2 separate regions of the Homo sapiens genome follow, and region 1 is linked to region 2. Evidence: fine-mapped expression QTL. Tissue or cell type: whole blood. Region 2 holds a variant in brackets; the other region holds the start of a gene. All regions are shown on one strand. Distances are from middle to middle.

Region 1 (6,773 bases), 65 kb after region 2:
GAGTGAGAACCTATCTCAAAACAAAACAAAAAAAAGGACAATCTTTTGTTGACTCTTATATTGGCAATAATTACTAATACAGACGGTCCCCAATTTATGACAATTCAACCTATGATTTTTTTACTTTAATTGGTGGTGCAAAAGCAATACACATTCAGTAAAATCTGTACTTCAAGTACTCATACAACCATCCTGTTTTTCTTTCAATGTAGTATTCAATAAATTATGTGAGATATTCAACACTTTATTATAAAATAGGCTTTGCATTAGATGATTTTGCCGAACTGTCAGCTAATGTGAGTGTTCCGAGCATTTTTAAGGTAGGCTAGGCTATGATGTTTGGTAGGTTGGATGTATTAAATGCATTTTAGATTTATGGTATTTTCAACCTATAAGTTTATTTGAACATGACCCCATTATAAGTTGAGAAACATTTGTACACAGTGTGCATGAGAGTGTGGGGAAATAGATCCTGTCTTATGTTTGATGGGGGTATAAATTGGCCAAGCCTTTTTGGAGGACAGTTTGGTGGTATATCCATTAACTATATAAAATCTCACATCCTTCTTTTGGCAATATCAAATGTATAAAATCTCATACATTTAAGCAAATAATTATATTTATAGTAGAATATCCTAAAGAAATTCTTCTACCTGTTGGCAAAGCTTTATGTGCCAGACTGTTCATTGTAACCTTGCTTTATTAGCTCCGGATCCAGAACTCATAATATGCAGCAGTTAAAAAGAATGAAGCAGCTTTAAATGTACTGGTATGTAGAGCTCTTTGAGACATAATTTTAAATGAAAAAAAAGCAAGTTGCAAAACAGTATGTTAATTATGATCCTGGCCAGGCGTGGTGGCTCACACCTGTAATCCCAGCACTTTGAGAGGCCCAGGTGGTTGGATCACTTGAGGCCAGGAGTTTGAGACCAGCCTAGCCAACATGGTGAAACCCAGTCTCTACTAAAAATACAAACATTAGCTGGGCATGGTGGTGCGCACCTGTAATCCCAGCTACTAGGGAGGCTGAGGCATGAGAATCGCTTGAACCCGAGAGGTGGAGGTTGCGGTGAGCCAAGATCGCACCACTGCACTCCAGCCTGAGTGAAAGAGCAAGACTCCATATAAAAAAAAATCTCATTTATATATTTTAATAAGACATGTATGTGTATATCATGTATACAAAAGGTTAATACACCAAACTTAAAATGGAGAGGTAACTGTGATTTGGGTGAGGATAGGGGAGTGAAAGTGGTACTAGTGCTTTTTCTGGGTTTGACTATTCTTTTCTTTTCTTTTCTTTTCAGAGACAGGGTTTCACGCCATTGCCGGTCTGGAGAGCAGTGGTGCAATCATAGTTCACTGTAACCTTGAATTCCTAAGCTCAAACAATCTTCTTGCCAAGTAGCCTCCCAAGTAGCTAGGACCACAGGCATGCACCACTAAGCCCAGCTATTTTTTTTTTTTAATAGACAGGTTTCCCTATGTCGGGAAACCTATGTAGGGTGGTCTCAAACTCTTGGCCTCAAGTAATGCTCTTGCCTCAGACTCCCAAAGTATTGGGATTATAGGCGTGAGCCATCACACTTGGCCTTGGGTTTGAATTTTATACTAGAATTGTACTCTTGTGGGATTTGTATGTAAAGTAAACAGCAAATATTAAAACACCCCAATTATCTTTCCACTGGGATACACAGAGCTAACTCCATCAGCCACATTGTATAAATATAACATGAGTTATTTAATCTCTCCCCTATCAATAGCCATTTTATGTTGCGTCAGGCTTTTTTTTTTTTTTTTTTTTTTTTTGACAGAGTCTCACTCTGTCAGCCAGACTGGAGTGCAGTGGCGTGATCTAGGCTCACTGCAACCTCCATCCCTTGGGTTCAAGCCATTCTCCTGACTCAGCCTTGCAAGTAGCTGGGGTTATAAGCGCCTGCCACTGCGCCCGGCTAATTTTTGTATTTTTAATAGAAACGGGGTTTCACCACGTTGGCCAGGCTGGTCTTGAACTCCTGACCTCGTGATCCACCTGCTTCGGCCTCCCAAAGTGCTGGGATTACAGGTGTGAGCCACCGTGCCCGGCTGCGTCAGTTTTTTCAAACCTTACAAGCATTGCGAAAAAAAAAAATTCTAGTAAATATATCTTTGTGAAACTGTGTAGGCATATAGGTTGGCTAAATTCCAAGGAATAGAATTATTGGGTCAAAGAATTTGTGAAATATTATAGTTATCATTTAATAGAGTTTGCCAAATTGCCCTATATAAAAAGCTTGCATCAATATCTGCCTCCAACAGAGTAGAGGAGTGCCCATTTCTTGACAAACCAGTCAACAATATTATCAAGTTTCTAAACTTTGAGAAAATCATACTTGAAACATGGTAAGGCATAGTTGCTTTGATTTGCATTTCTTTGTTTGAGCATCTTTTCATATGTTTATTAGTAATCTATTTCTTTTCTGTGAACAAATCTGTTCATGTCTTTTGGCACATTTTTCTATTGGGTTGTTTATCATTTTACTAATGATCTGTAAGAGCTTTTAGATTATTACAAGTTAGCCTTTTGACAGTCAATGTTTATGGTTTTTTTTTTTTACTTTACCAAAGTTTAAAATTTGTATGCAATTAATTTATCAATATTTTCCTTTGGTGGAGAAAGTAAGTTCGTCACTTTCAATTGAGTTCTGAAAAGCCATTAGTAAGATTGTAAGGCACTAGGACTTCCTTTCTTGGCTCCTGAAAGGGCCTCCTCCACACAGGGGCCCCTCACAGTGGAGCCCCTCCCTCTGGGGTGTCCTATTTCAATGTTCTAAGAAAGAGGCTGCCTGGAGGGTCTATATTTGGAGTATGACTCCTCAGCGGGGACAGGTGGATGCGTGGGGACTAACTTCTGCATATTTGGTCCCTGAGTTTTGGGATTATTCTGAGGGGCTTGTATGGGAGGTGCAGTGAAGTTGTAACACAAGGCAGGACATGAAAAAACTTCTTTTTCTTGGCAATTGCTTGGGATCCTGTACATTGCCCTTCCACTTGTGAGGGAAAAAAATAATGACACGGACATCAGGTGTGTTGCAGTGATTCACAGTCATCCACAGACCCTCACCACCATCTCCACTGGAAAATATTGAACACTCGCCACTGCTAGGGTAGTATGTAGTACATGAATGGCAGACACCGGCGAGATCTCAAGTGTTACGACGGATGAAAATTCCACCTGTTAAGTCTCCTTTCCATCCAAGCTCTAGCAGTTGGTTGTTCCATGGGTGTGGTGAGGCTGATCTGATTACATGCTTATGTAAAATCCAAATAAAGCCCCTTGAATGGAAAACAGGTTAATTTGGGAAGTCACTAGTAAAGCAGGTTAATTTGGTAAGTCACTAGTAAAGCACTAGGCTCATCAGGAGTTGGGTCTTAAATATATCCTCTAGAAGTCTTCTCTGAAGAAGGTCTTAGACACCTGAAAAAAGATGCTGAGTTCAGCCAGAACTTCAAAAGTTACAAATCACCTGTGTAAAATTGTCAATATTAGAAAACGAAATGTCTTTCCAAAGATTAACTTATAGATCATATTGAATACGTGCTGGTTTTGTTTAGGACAATTTTGTATTTAAAATGTCAAGAATTACTAGTCAATTTTGAAAGCTGTAAAATAGTTTGCAGTAACAGAAGACATTTTAAAATGTGGCACAAAATAATGTAAACAAAAGAATGAGTCTTTTGTTATTTTTACACCCTGAATATTTTTTGTGTCAAATGAAAATGGCTATACTGTATTTTCTGATTACAATATTAGAAAAGAATGTCATATTAAAAGAAAAAAAAGGAACACGAAAAAGAAAATTAAAGCTCTACTTGCACCTTCTGCTTTCCTTCCTGATACCCCCTTCCACAGCCCATTTGGTGCAGGCATTGTACTTAGAGAGGGCAGGTCGTGTAGGGGGCGGGTGGGGAGTGCTGGTCTTATAGTCTAAGAGAGAAATAAGTGATTACTCAAAGAAGAAACATAAAAGGCCACAGCCAAGGGCCGGGAGTGGGTAGGGGGATGCAGACCCTCCCCTGTAACTGAAGATGGGTAAACTCCAACCACAAGGCGATGATGCCACTTGTGGGCCCTCAGATTGGAGAGGACGGAGATGAGTGACAACGCGTGCGCACTGGGGCACCGAGCACAGACCAGAGAACGGGGATGTCTGTGCGTGCGGAGTGGAGGAGGGGGGAGTTCCTGGTGACTGGCCGCCGGCCCTTGGTGGGTGGTAGGGGGTGCTGGGGAGGAGGGCGAGCTCGGCGGTGACGCGCGGTCCTCACGTGACCCGGAGCTGCAGAGCTACGCAGCCTTCGTTGCAGTCGTCACTCGCATCTGGCTACCAGCTCCCCGCTGCCCTGCGCTCGGCGGGCTGGCATCGGGCCCGGGGAAAGCGGAGCAGGTAAGGGCCCTGGGGCCCGCGCGCCCTGGCCAGGCCGGCAGAAGCTCACTGACCCCGGCAGCGGTTACGGGGCTTGAGGGGGCGGTGGTCTATGCTGCCTCAAGTTCGAGGAGCCTTTGCCTCTGATTCTCCCTAGCCCCCTTGCCCCCGCCTACATCTGTGCAGGCGAACCGTGGGCTTTGATTTGTGGGGAGATTGTCTCTGCCAGAGGGAAATACAGAGATTGAGATGCCCATCGCTCTAATCACTGGCCACACATGTCCGCTCGCTTCCTGCTCAATTTAGTGGAAGGGATGCGCCACGGTGGCGTTTGCAGAGAAAATGGTGGGCCTTAGAGACTGGACGGTGGGGTTGGTAAGGGTGGTGTCTCAGACTGTGGGGAGGGACGTTTGATAACCAGGTTCCTGAACCCGGAAAGGCGAGTATTGGGATCTATGTCCTGGGCTCTAGACCAACACTAAGTGGTTTTACTCTCTCCTGTCTGTCGGACAGTAGTTCGGTGTAGCACTGTTTGCGGCGAGGAGAAAGGAAGGAGAGGAGAAAACTGCACTGGATCAAGGAGGTTAGTGTGAGTACAGACACTATCTAAACCATTGGAGTTCCATATGAATTCTATGACAGGAACTTAGGTGCGGCTGTCTGAATGGGATGTGGGGTGGGGCTAGCTTGGGGACTTTCCCTAAACTGCATTTTACTTACCAAGCTTAGGACTTTTAAATTGTATGTTGAAGACCAATGAAGACAGCAAACTTTTCTACAGATGCTTTTATTTGCATTTCAGATAATATTGAGAAAAAGATAAATTATATTAAAGAATATTATTATTATTATTATTTTTTAGATAGCCTTTGGTGGGGAAGGATAGTGATTTTGTAGAAGCAAAAGGCTTCCCCTATAGCTTTTCTCTTCTGCTGGAGACTCCTAGAGATAGGTTGAAAGGGACGTGGACAGCAGTAGGTTGTGGTTCTAGAGTATGGGATCTGGGGTCTCCCATCTCTCCTGCCATCCTTCAGTTTTCCAGATCCCTCTACCTACCTGACCATCTTGGTGAAGGAAATGGTGGGCTTTTGGGGAAATCCCTAGAACCCTACAGGTGGTTTTAAAATAATTTGCCTTGTTGGGCCTAGTAGCTCTTGCCTGTAATCCCAGCACTTTGAGAGACCCAAGCAAGAGGATTGCTTGAGCTCAGGTGTTCAAGACCAGCCTGGGCAACATAGCGAGACTTCATCTCTACATATAATTTAAAAATTAGCTGGGTATGGTGGCACAGTCTGTAGTTCCTGCTACTTGGGAGGCTGAGGTGGGAGGATCTTTTGAGCCTGGGAGGTCGAGACTGTGGTGAGCCATGATCTTGCCACTGCAATCCAGCCTGGGTGACAGAGTGGGGCTCTGTCTCAAAATAAATAAAAAATAAAATAAATAAAATAAAATAAAATAAAATAAAATAACGTGCCTCTGTCTGTTGCCTTTTACTTTTCCTGCCTCCCTTTTCCATCCTTCCCATTTCAGTGCTGGGGAAGCCCCAGGCTTTTTTTTTTTTTTTTTTCTGCCAGCAAATGGGTCTCTAAATCCAGGCAGGCAGGTACAGGGACCTATGTCTTAGATGGTAAGTGTCACAAGTACTTAACATCCACTCTCTTCTTTTTCTCCATCTGTTCCAAGGTCTTCCCATAGGCCTGCAGTAGGGCTGTTTACCATTGGAAGCAAGGGAAAGAGGAGGAGATCAATCTAGAAGCATGGAGGTTGGTGTGAAGTGGGGGTAGTCTCTGGGGATGACAAGAGAGGGTGGGCATAGGAGGTGGGTGAGATTTAAGAGGGTCTCAGTGGAGTGCTGGATTGCCACAGTGCTGCCATGCCTCCTGTGGATTTCAGTGCAGGAAATGATAGGAATATGGGGGTAAGGGTGGGCTGGAGTATGACTGGGGGAAGACTTGATGGGGGGACCATGAGATGGTACACATTAGTATATAGAACCTGGGCTCTGGCGAGGCAGACATTGGGGTCAGGGATCAGGTTGCTTGTCTGTTCTACCAGGGACTCGGTTTCCATTACCTACTGTTTGTTTACTTGTCCATAGATCTGCCTGCATGTCTGCTGCAGGGCTTAAGATCACTGGAAGCAAAGAAACAAAGAGGAGATTGCTCCTGATCAGTATAGACTGGTAAGAGTGTGGGGACTGCCTGGGTAGACCTCTAGAGTGGGTTGGTGGAGACCAGTGTGCATCCAGTAAGGACCAGTGACCAGTCTGGAGGATGAGGATCCTCAGTCTCTCCTTTTCCAGCCACCTTTCCCACCATCCCTGTCATTTACTCCATACCCTCACCTTAATTCTGGTACAGGGAAAAGAGT
Region 2 (8,372 bases):
TCATGTGCATCAGAATCATCTGCAGGGGTTGTTTAAACATTCATTTCTAGGCCCCATCCCTAGAGTTTCCAATTCAGTAGTTTTGGGATGTTGCTTGAGAATGTGCTGATGCTGCTGGTCTCAAGACCACGTTTTGAGACCCATCACAGTTCCCCAAACAGCAACTTTAAGGAGCAGCTTCCTTTATGATCCCTGATTGCCTCCCCTTTGTTCCCATAACAAGTAGTTTAAATTTTCTGTTAAAGTCCAAACCACATATTTACAATACCTCGCACCTCTTAATGAGGATTTTGAGCTGCTGTGGCATTGTGTGCTGATATCTTAGATTTCTGTCTGGATCACAGTGGTCATTAACAATTCCACCCCTCAATAACTTTAAGGCCCTGATGTCCCTCTTATCAGTACCAACTGTACCGTGAACTACAGATCTCTGTAGTTTCACTGACCCCTTGGGGACTGGATTGCTATACTTGGGCTGTTCAGGGCTTGGGGCCCAGAGAAATGAGATGGGAGGCAAATACCAAGTTGGTATTACCTGACTCCGTTTCATTCAGGAAATGAAAATCAATTCTAGAAAATCATTCAAGCTGAAGATGCAGTGAGACGTGATTGAGATTCTTTGATGACTTCTAATTTTTATCACAGCTTTCAGGAGAGCAAGAAATCCATTTTGACTCCTATCATGTTGAGCCAGTCCTTGCCCTTCAGGAAGCCTTTCTCAGAGGGTAAACAAGTAGGTGTTTTTGCCTTCCCAGGCTACTTAGTTAATTTTCCAGAAGTTTCTCTAAGTCTGAGCAAAGATTCTCAAGTTAGCCACTAGATGGCACCAAATCCCAGGAGACAATAGAGGGTTCTTTGTGATCTTAGATGTTCACTTACTCTTCTTCGCTGGCTAAGAAGACTCAGAAGGGCTCTGGGGAGCAAAGGAGAGAGAACCTGGAGAAGGTCAGCGGTCAGCACTAGAGGTGTGCAAAGGGACAGCAGTACAGCTGGTGTGCACACGCGTGCACACCCACCACCATTCGTGCTCCAACACTCACATCTAACACTACTACCCAGGAAAGTGATGGGAGGTCGAGTGGGCAGTCCACCCACAACACCCCCCAAACACTGAGTCAGAGGATTTATTTTCAACTGCGTGTGTGAGCTATTTGGCAGGATCAGGCAGAAAATTTGCAGCCACAGTTATCGTGGTCTAAGTATCCGATGGCTTGTGCCAGTGGTTCTCTGGGTGTGGTACCTGATCAGTAACAGCATGAACCTCCACCTTGTGAGATATGCAGATTCTTTTTGCCCCCCCGCCCCCCGCCTCGTCCCTTTCCCCCAAGGACTGAATCAGAAACTGGGTGTGGAGCCCAACAAGTTGTGTTTTGTTTTTTGTGTTTTTCTGAGACAGGGTCTCGCTCTTGCCCAGGCTGGAGTGCGGTGGTGCGATCTCAGCTCACTGCAGCCTTGAATTCCAGGCTCAAGTGATACTCCCACCTCAGCCTCTCGAGTAGCTGGGACTACAGGCGAGTGCCACCAAGCCCAGTTATTTTTTAAAATGATTTTTATAGAGACGGGATCTCACTATGTTGCCTAGGCTGGTCTCGAACTCCTAGGCTCAAGAGATCCTCCTGCCTTGGCCTCTCAAAGTGCTGGGATTACAGGTGTGAACCTCTGTCCAGCCAATAAGCTGTGTTTTAACAAGTGCTCAGGGTGGTTCTGCTGCAGGAAACTACTGGCTGATGGATACATGGATTCCATTATCCACCCATTCATTGATTCCTGCATTCACTCATCCAACCCTAAAGGAGGTAACCAAAACAGAGACAATCCCATGTGTAAGCATGACATATCTTCTCTGCCTTCTCTACCCAGCAAAATGATACGAAAATGCATTGCGAATATGTTTATAAATCAAGCTCCTTTTCCATCAGGTAGAATTCCTAGTGCTGTCAGCTAAAATGAAGATTTCTCCAAGATGGGCCTCCAGGGCTATTGCAAAACAGCTGCTGATGGAAGGAAATTCCACTTGCTGTGCCTTATACCAGGCTGGGAGTGTCACAAGAACCCTTTACAAGCTGCTCCCACAATGACCAAAACTGTCTTCTCATGAGTGCAAAGCAGGCATGCCCAAGGGGCCCAGGTTAGCATGGTGCAGGACTCCGCTGGGAAGGTGAGGGGTTATCGTCGCGGGGGAGTGTCGACTAACTGGGCTGGTGGTGCAGGGGTAAAATAATTTACCAAGACAGTTGGAGGTAAAGGCAGATTTATTAGAGAAAGTAGGAAAATACGTTTCGAGAAGGCAACGGGCAGCCTGCAAGAGAGGAGCCGACTGAAAAGAAACAAAGGCTTGCTGGAGATTTTATAGGATGGTTTTTGGGCTGATTGAGAAAACCAAGGCAGTAGGGAGCTAGCTTGCATTCTTCTGTTAGCTGGGGTGTTTGATAAATTGAGGCGTTTGATAGTGAGCAGGAAGTTTGTGAGTTATGTATGTTATCTGCGCAAGAAGCCACATGTCCTGGGCCATAAAGAAAAGCAGACCTATAGCTTATCTGATTCCTCTTTTTGTTTATATGTTCTGGACCATGAAGAAAGACAAACTTATAGCTTATTTGCTTTCTCCCTTTGCCTTCCCCTGCTCCAGCCAGCCTAACTCCTTTTTTCTAATTAGGATTCCACAGTTATGTTGTCCCTGTGCCTGCAGCCTGTGAATGGACGCCCCACCACCTCCGTCACAGCAGTGGTCAGCACAGATAAATGCACACAACACACATCGATCTGGCCCTCTGAGAAGAGAATGTTAGGCTTCTGAAAGAAGAGATAAATAGTGAGAGATAACATCTAAGAATCAAAATAATATATTCAGTAATTATTTTCTGAACCTATCCTAATGCTCTGACCGATACATTCTTTAGAACATCTACCCGTACATTCCAAGGACCCTTTTTCCACGGCCCTTTTTCTCCCTGTATCCCTCTTCCTGCTCCCCTTCTTTTGCACAGGGCATGTTTCACATATACAAGATGTTCTTACGTGTCATCCCACTTTAGAGATGAGGAAATTGAGTCTCAGGGAAGGCAAACATCAACTTTGTCTTGGGGAAAGGGCAGGAAGCTGGAAGGGAGGAGGAAATGAGCTCTGGCGAAGGAAAGAGGACATGGCTGGGATCCTTATGGGGTGGTGTACGAGTACCCGTGCCCCCCCCGATCTGTGGGCTGAGGGTGGCGGTGACTAGCGCTGGGACCAGCTCCTTCTCTCTCGCTCCCAAGCCCACAAGAATTCGGGGAGAAAGGGTGAGGTAGGGGGCTCCGGGAGAGCGGAGAGAGTTTGGAAAGAATCCATCCCTCCTTCTCCCCGGCGGCTTTCTCGAGACCCTCACACAGCGCCCCGCCCCGCCCCAGTACATTTCCTTTCAGGGAAAGGGACAGGGAAGAGGCTGTCGGGAAATGGCGGCCGCGGCCGGGCTGGGGCTTCAGCGGGAGGCAGCAGAGGGGAAGTGGTCAGCGTGGCGAATGACGGAAGGTGGCGAGGGAGAGGAAGAGGGGTCGGGTGTCCGCGGAGCTCCAAGAGGGAAGACAATCGCTTTGCCAAACACGGCAGGGCATCTGGAAAGGCCTGGGAACCTCACCCGCCCTCCCAGGCCCTTCGGGCTCTTTTCGGTCCCATTAGGAGGAGGGGGAGGGCGGCAGGTGGGACCGGGCACAGGCCTAGTCGTGCGACAGGAGAAGGGAAGGAAGGGCCGGCCCCAGCTGGGTCCTCCTTGCGTCTGGCCTGTGCCGGACGCCCCCGACTCCGAGTGATCTCGGGCCGGTCCCCGGGGGAGTCCAGCTTCTCGCGCCAGGGGAGTTCTCAGCCCCAGGGCAGTCCAGGGATTAGGCGGAAGGGGGCACGCAGCCACCTGGCCGGGGCAGGGGGAGCTGCGAGGAGCCTTTTTTTTTTTTTTTTTTCCTGCGCAGAGCCCCTTGCGTGACACACAGTAGGCGCTCAATACATGTTTATTTTCAGTTGAGTGTTGCTTCAGCTTTTATGGCTTGTGATAAATCCTTATCCTTCTGTTCTAGAAACTCGCATTGTCTACTGGATCAAGGACAGACAGCTCACCAACC[G/A]TGACAGCACCATACTGGAACTTCAAAAAGTTCTGAAAACATGTTGGTTCGTTTGTTGGAGTATTTTTCAACTTAAATTCCTTTTCCTTTTTTTTTTTTTTGCTCACTTTTTCCTCTGCAGAAAAACCTTAAAATGTTCTACCTTTTCCTTGAAACCTCCTCCCACTCCTTAGTTCACATTGACTTGTCTTTAAATGTTTTTGAGAAAATAATCAGAAATGCACAATTAGTGCTTGGTGGTTCTCAAATTATTTCACGCGTGGTAGTTTTGATTTTTGCTTTTCCAGTGAGGCTGTACCTTTCATCCTTAGGCAAATATGATGGCTTTCAAAAGCAGCTATGGGGTGGGAACTGGGAGTGGCTGCAAATGGGCATGGAGCGTCTTTTAGAGATAACGAAAATGTCCCAACTTAGATTGTGGTGATAGTTCGCACAACTCTATAAATTACTAAAAACTATTGAATTTGCACTTGAAAAGGGGGAGAACTTTATGAAATATAAATTATAACTCAAAGAAGCTCTTAAAATGCCTATGGAATAATAAGTAAAGAGTAGTGGGGATATGATCTATTTTGTGGGGAGACTAGCAGCAAAGTAAGACATAAAGATAAAGAAACATACACTGGCCTGAGGAAGTAACAAAGTCTCTTTGAGCAAACTTTGGACAGGCTCCTCTCAGCTTTCTTTTCAACTACACCTTGTCCTTGGGCCCTGTCCTCGGCCTGCCTAGCCCAGTTTTAGCAAGAGTCCTGCTGAGTAACTCCCTCACCCTTGATACCTGATCACCTTGTCCTGCCTTGAGCGAGAATCCTGTTTAGTCAGTTGAGCAAGAATCCCCCTACCCTTGATATCTCTCTCCCCTTAGGAATTTTCTTTCTACTGACTCCCTCACTCTGCTGCTTGACTGTAAATCCACACTTGTCCTAGTTGTCTTTGGATTGAGCTTAGTTCTATACTGAAGTCTCTTTTCCTCTATTATAATAGTACTCAAAATATGGCTTTACTGCTTTTGACTAGTATCTGGCTCTGTTTCCCATTGGCGGAAGGCACTCTCAGACAGTGCTTCTAGTAGTATATATTAGCATGACCTGCCAGGGTACAATTCTTTTTAAAAAGACCACCAATTGGCTGGATGCAGTGGCTCACGCCTGTAATCCCAGCACTCTGGGAGGCCGAGGCGGGTGGATCAGGTCAGGAGTTCGAGACGAGCCTGGCCAACATGGTGAAACCCCCATCTCTACTAGAAATACAAAAATTAGCTGGGCATGGTGGTGTGCGCCTGTAATCCCAGCTACTTGGGAGGCTGAGGCAGGAGAATCACTTGAATGCAGGAGGCGGAGGTTGCAATGAGCCAAGATTGTGCCACTGCACTCCAGCTTGGGTGACAGAGTGGGCCTCCGTCTCAAAAAAAAACAAAAACAAAAAAAAGACCACCAATTTATTGCCAGGCATTGTACTGGGTGCTGAGGAAATTTGAGGAAAAACACCTATTAAGTTCCTGTCCTCAAGGAGCTCATAGTACAGTGGGGAGCCAAGTAGCAAGCAAATAGCCATGCAAGTGTATAATTGCAATGAGGACAAGTATCATGAAAAGGAGGGTACATGGTGCAATGAGAGCCTATAAAATAGGGGTATTCGACTAGTCAAGGTGGTCAGGAATTGCTTCAAAGAAGCAGTTATTGAGCTGAGAGTTAAAGGAAGAATAGTGGCTAATTAGATTGGAGGTGAGAGTTGGAGGAGCTGGTTTGAGGCTATGTGTTCAGAGATGGCATGGTGAGTAAAAGAGACTGAATGAAAGTGGCTGGAGTTCAACAGGCAGTTGGGACAGCAGTGTGTTGGGTCAGGGCATGCAGGGCCTTACAAGCCATCTTAAGCCATTCAGTCTATATCCTAAGAGCCATTGGAAGCCCTGTGGGATGGGGAGAACGAATCAGATTTGTCTTTGAAAATATTGCCCTGGGGGCCAGGCACAGTGGCTCATGCCTGTAATCCCAGCACTTTGGGAGGCTGAGGCAGGTGGATCACCTGAGGTCGGGCATTCGAGACCAGCCTGGCCAACCAACATGGTGAAACCCCGTCTCTACTAAAAATACAAAAAGTTAGCCGGGCATGGTGGTGCATGCTTGTAATCCCAGCTACTCGGGAGGGTGAGGCAGGAGAATCGCTTGAACCCGGGAGGCAGAGGTTGTGGTGAGCTGAGATCGCGCCATTGCACACCAGCCTGGGCAACAAGAGCAAAACTCTGTCTCAAAAAAAAAAAAAAAAAAAAAGAAAGGAAAAGAAAATATTGCCCTGGCTACAGTGTGGATAAAGGATTGGGAAGGAGTCAGAATGTATGGAGAGTTTTATTAGAAGCCATTTCAACAATCTAGAGTAGAGGTAATAGTAGCTTGTACTACAATAGCCATGGTTTACATGGAGGGGATTGGTATATTTTAGGGTTTCTTAGGAGGTAAAATCTGCAGGACTTGGCAATGGATTGGAATTGGGAGGGAGGGAGTGTGATATTGTGAAGTACACATTTAGTCTTTAGTTTGTTTTGTGCTGCTATAACAATACCCGATAGTGGGTAATTTATAAACAGAAATTTATTGCCTTACAGTTCTGGAAGATAGGAAGTCTAAGGTTAAGGTGTGGGCAGGTTTGGTGTCTGGTGAGGCCATTCTCTTTTTCCAAGATGGTCCCTGCACACACTGTGTCCTCCAGAGGGGAGGAAGGCTAGATCATGACATGGCAGAAGACAGAAAGAAGGGCCAAGAGATAGAGCAAGAGGAGACCGATCTTGCCCTTTTATAATGGCATTAATCCCACCTGTGAGGGTAGAGCCCTCATGGCTTAATCACCTCTTAAAAGTCTCACCTCTTAATACTATTACTGCAACCGCCCAGTGGGTTCACCTTGCCTGCTGCCTAGACAGAGATTTATCAAGACAGGAGAGTTGAAATGAAGAAAGAGTAATTCACACACAGCCGGCTGTGCAGGAGACCAGAGTTTTGTTATTACTTAAATCAGTCTCCCAGAGCATTTGGGGGATCAGTTATTATTATTATTATTATTATTATTATTATTATTATTATTTGAGACAGAGTCTTGCTCTGTTGCCCAGGCTGGAGTGCAATGATGTGATTTCGGCTCACTGCAACCTCTGCCTCCCGGGTTCAAGCGATTCTCCTGCCTCAGCCTCCCGAGTAGCTGGGATTACAGGTGCCCGCCACTATGCCAGGCCAATTTTTGTATTTTTTAGTAGAGATGGGGTTTCACCATGTTGGCCAGGCTGGTCTCGAACTCCTGACTTCAGGTGATCCACCCGCCTCAGCCTCCCAAAGTGCTGGGATTACAGGCGTGAGCCACCGTGCCTGGCTGGGATCAGAGTTTTTAAAGATAACTTGGTGGGTAGGGGCTTGGGAAGTACGGAGTGCTGATCAGTCAGGTTGGAGATGGAATCATAGGGGGTCGAAGTGAGTCTTTCTTGCAGTTTTGTGTTCTGGGTGGGATGGCAGAACTGGTTGAGCCAGATTACAGGTCTGGGTGGTGTCAGCTGCTCCATCGAGTTCAGGGTCTGAAAAGTATCTCAGGCACTGATCTTAGGTTTCACAATAGTGATGTTATCCCCAGGAGCAATTTGGGGAGGTTCAGACTCTTGGAGCCAGAGGCTGCATGACCCCTAAACTGTAATTTCTAATCTTGTAGCTAATTTGTTAGTCCTGCACAGGCAGACTAGTCCCCAGGAAAGAAACGCCTATGATCAATTTTGTTTCAGAATCAAACCACAAACTGAATTCCTTCCCAAAGTTAGTTTGACCTATGCCCAGGAATGAACAAGGACAGCTTAAAGGTTAGAAGCAAGGTGGAGTCGGTTAGGTCTGATTTCTTTCACTGTCATAATTTCCTCAGTTATAATTTTGCAAAGGTGATTTCATTACAATGGCAATTAAATTTTTCATTTTTATTTTATTTATATATATATATTTTTGAGACGGAGTCTCACTATGTTGCCCAGATTGGAGTGCAGTGGCGCAATCTTGGCTCAGTGCAACCTCTACCTCCTGGGCTCAAGCGATTCTCCTGCCTCAGCCTCCCGAGTAGCTGGGATTACAGGCGCCCACCACCATGCCCAGCTAATCTTTGTATTTTTACTAGAGACAATGTTTCACCATGTTGGCCAGGCTGGTCTTGAACTCCTGACCTCAGGCGATCCACTGGCCTCGGCCCCCCAAAGTGCTGGGATTACAGGCGTGAGCCACCATGCCCATGGGGCAATTAAATTTTAACATGAGTTTT

The links. PIP is the estimated chance that this variant, and not a neighbour inherited with it, causes the effect.
Region 1: it holds the start of ARMCX4, and the variant in region 2 is fine-mapped to the expression of ARMCX4 in whole blood (TOPMed, PIP 0.98).

Annotation. Positions count from the first base shown.
Region 1 is chrX:101,481,107-101,487,879 of GRCh38, forward strand. ARMCX4 (armadillo repeat containing X-linked 4) reads left to right here and starts at 4,350. Exons shown (of 6, transcript NM_001256155.3): 1 at 4,350-4,424; 2 at 4,917-4,986; 3 at 6,087-6,166; 4 at 6,502-6,585.
Region 2 is chrX:101,414,864-101,423,235 of GRCh38, forward strand. It overlaps a transcript of ARMCX4 not described here. Among named protein-coding and RNA genes, the nearest start is that of HNRNPH2, 11 kb to the left of the region's middle. The variant G/A (reference allele first, on the strand shown) is at 4,092.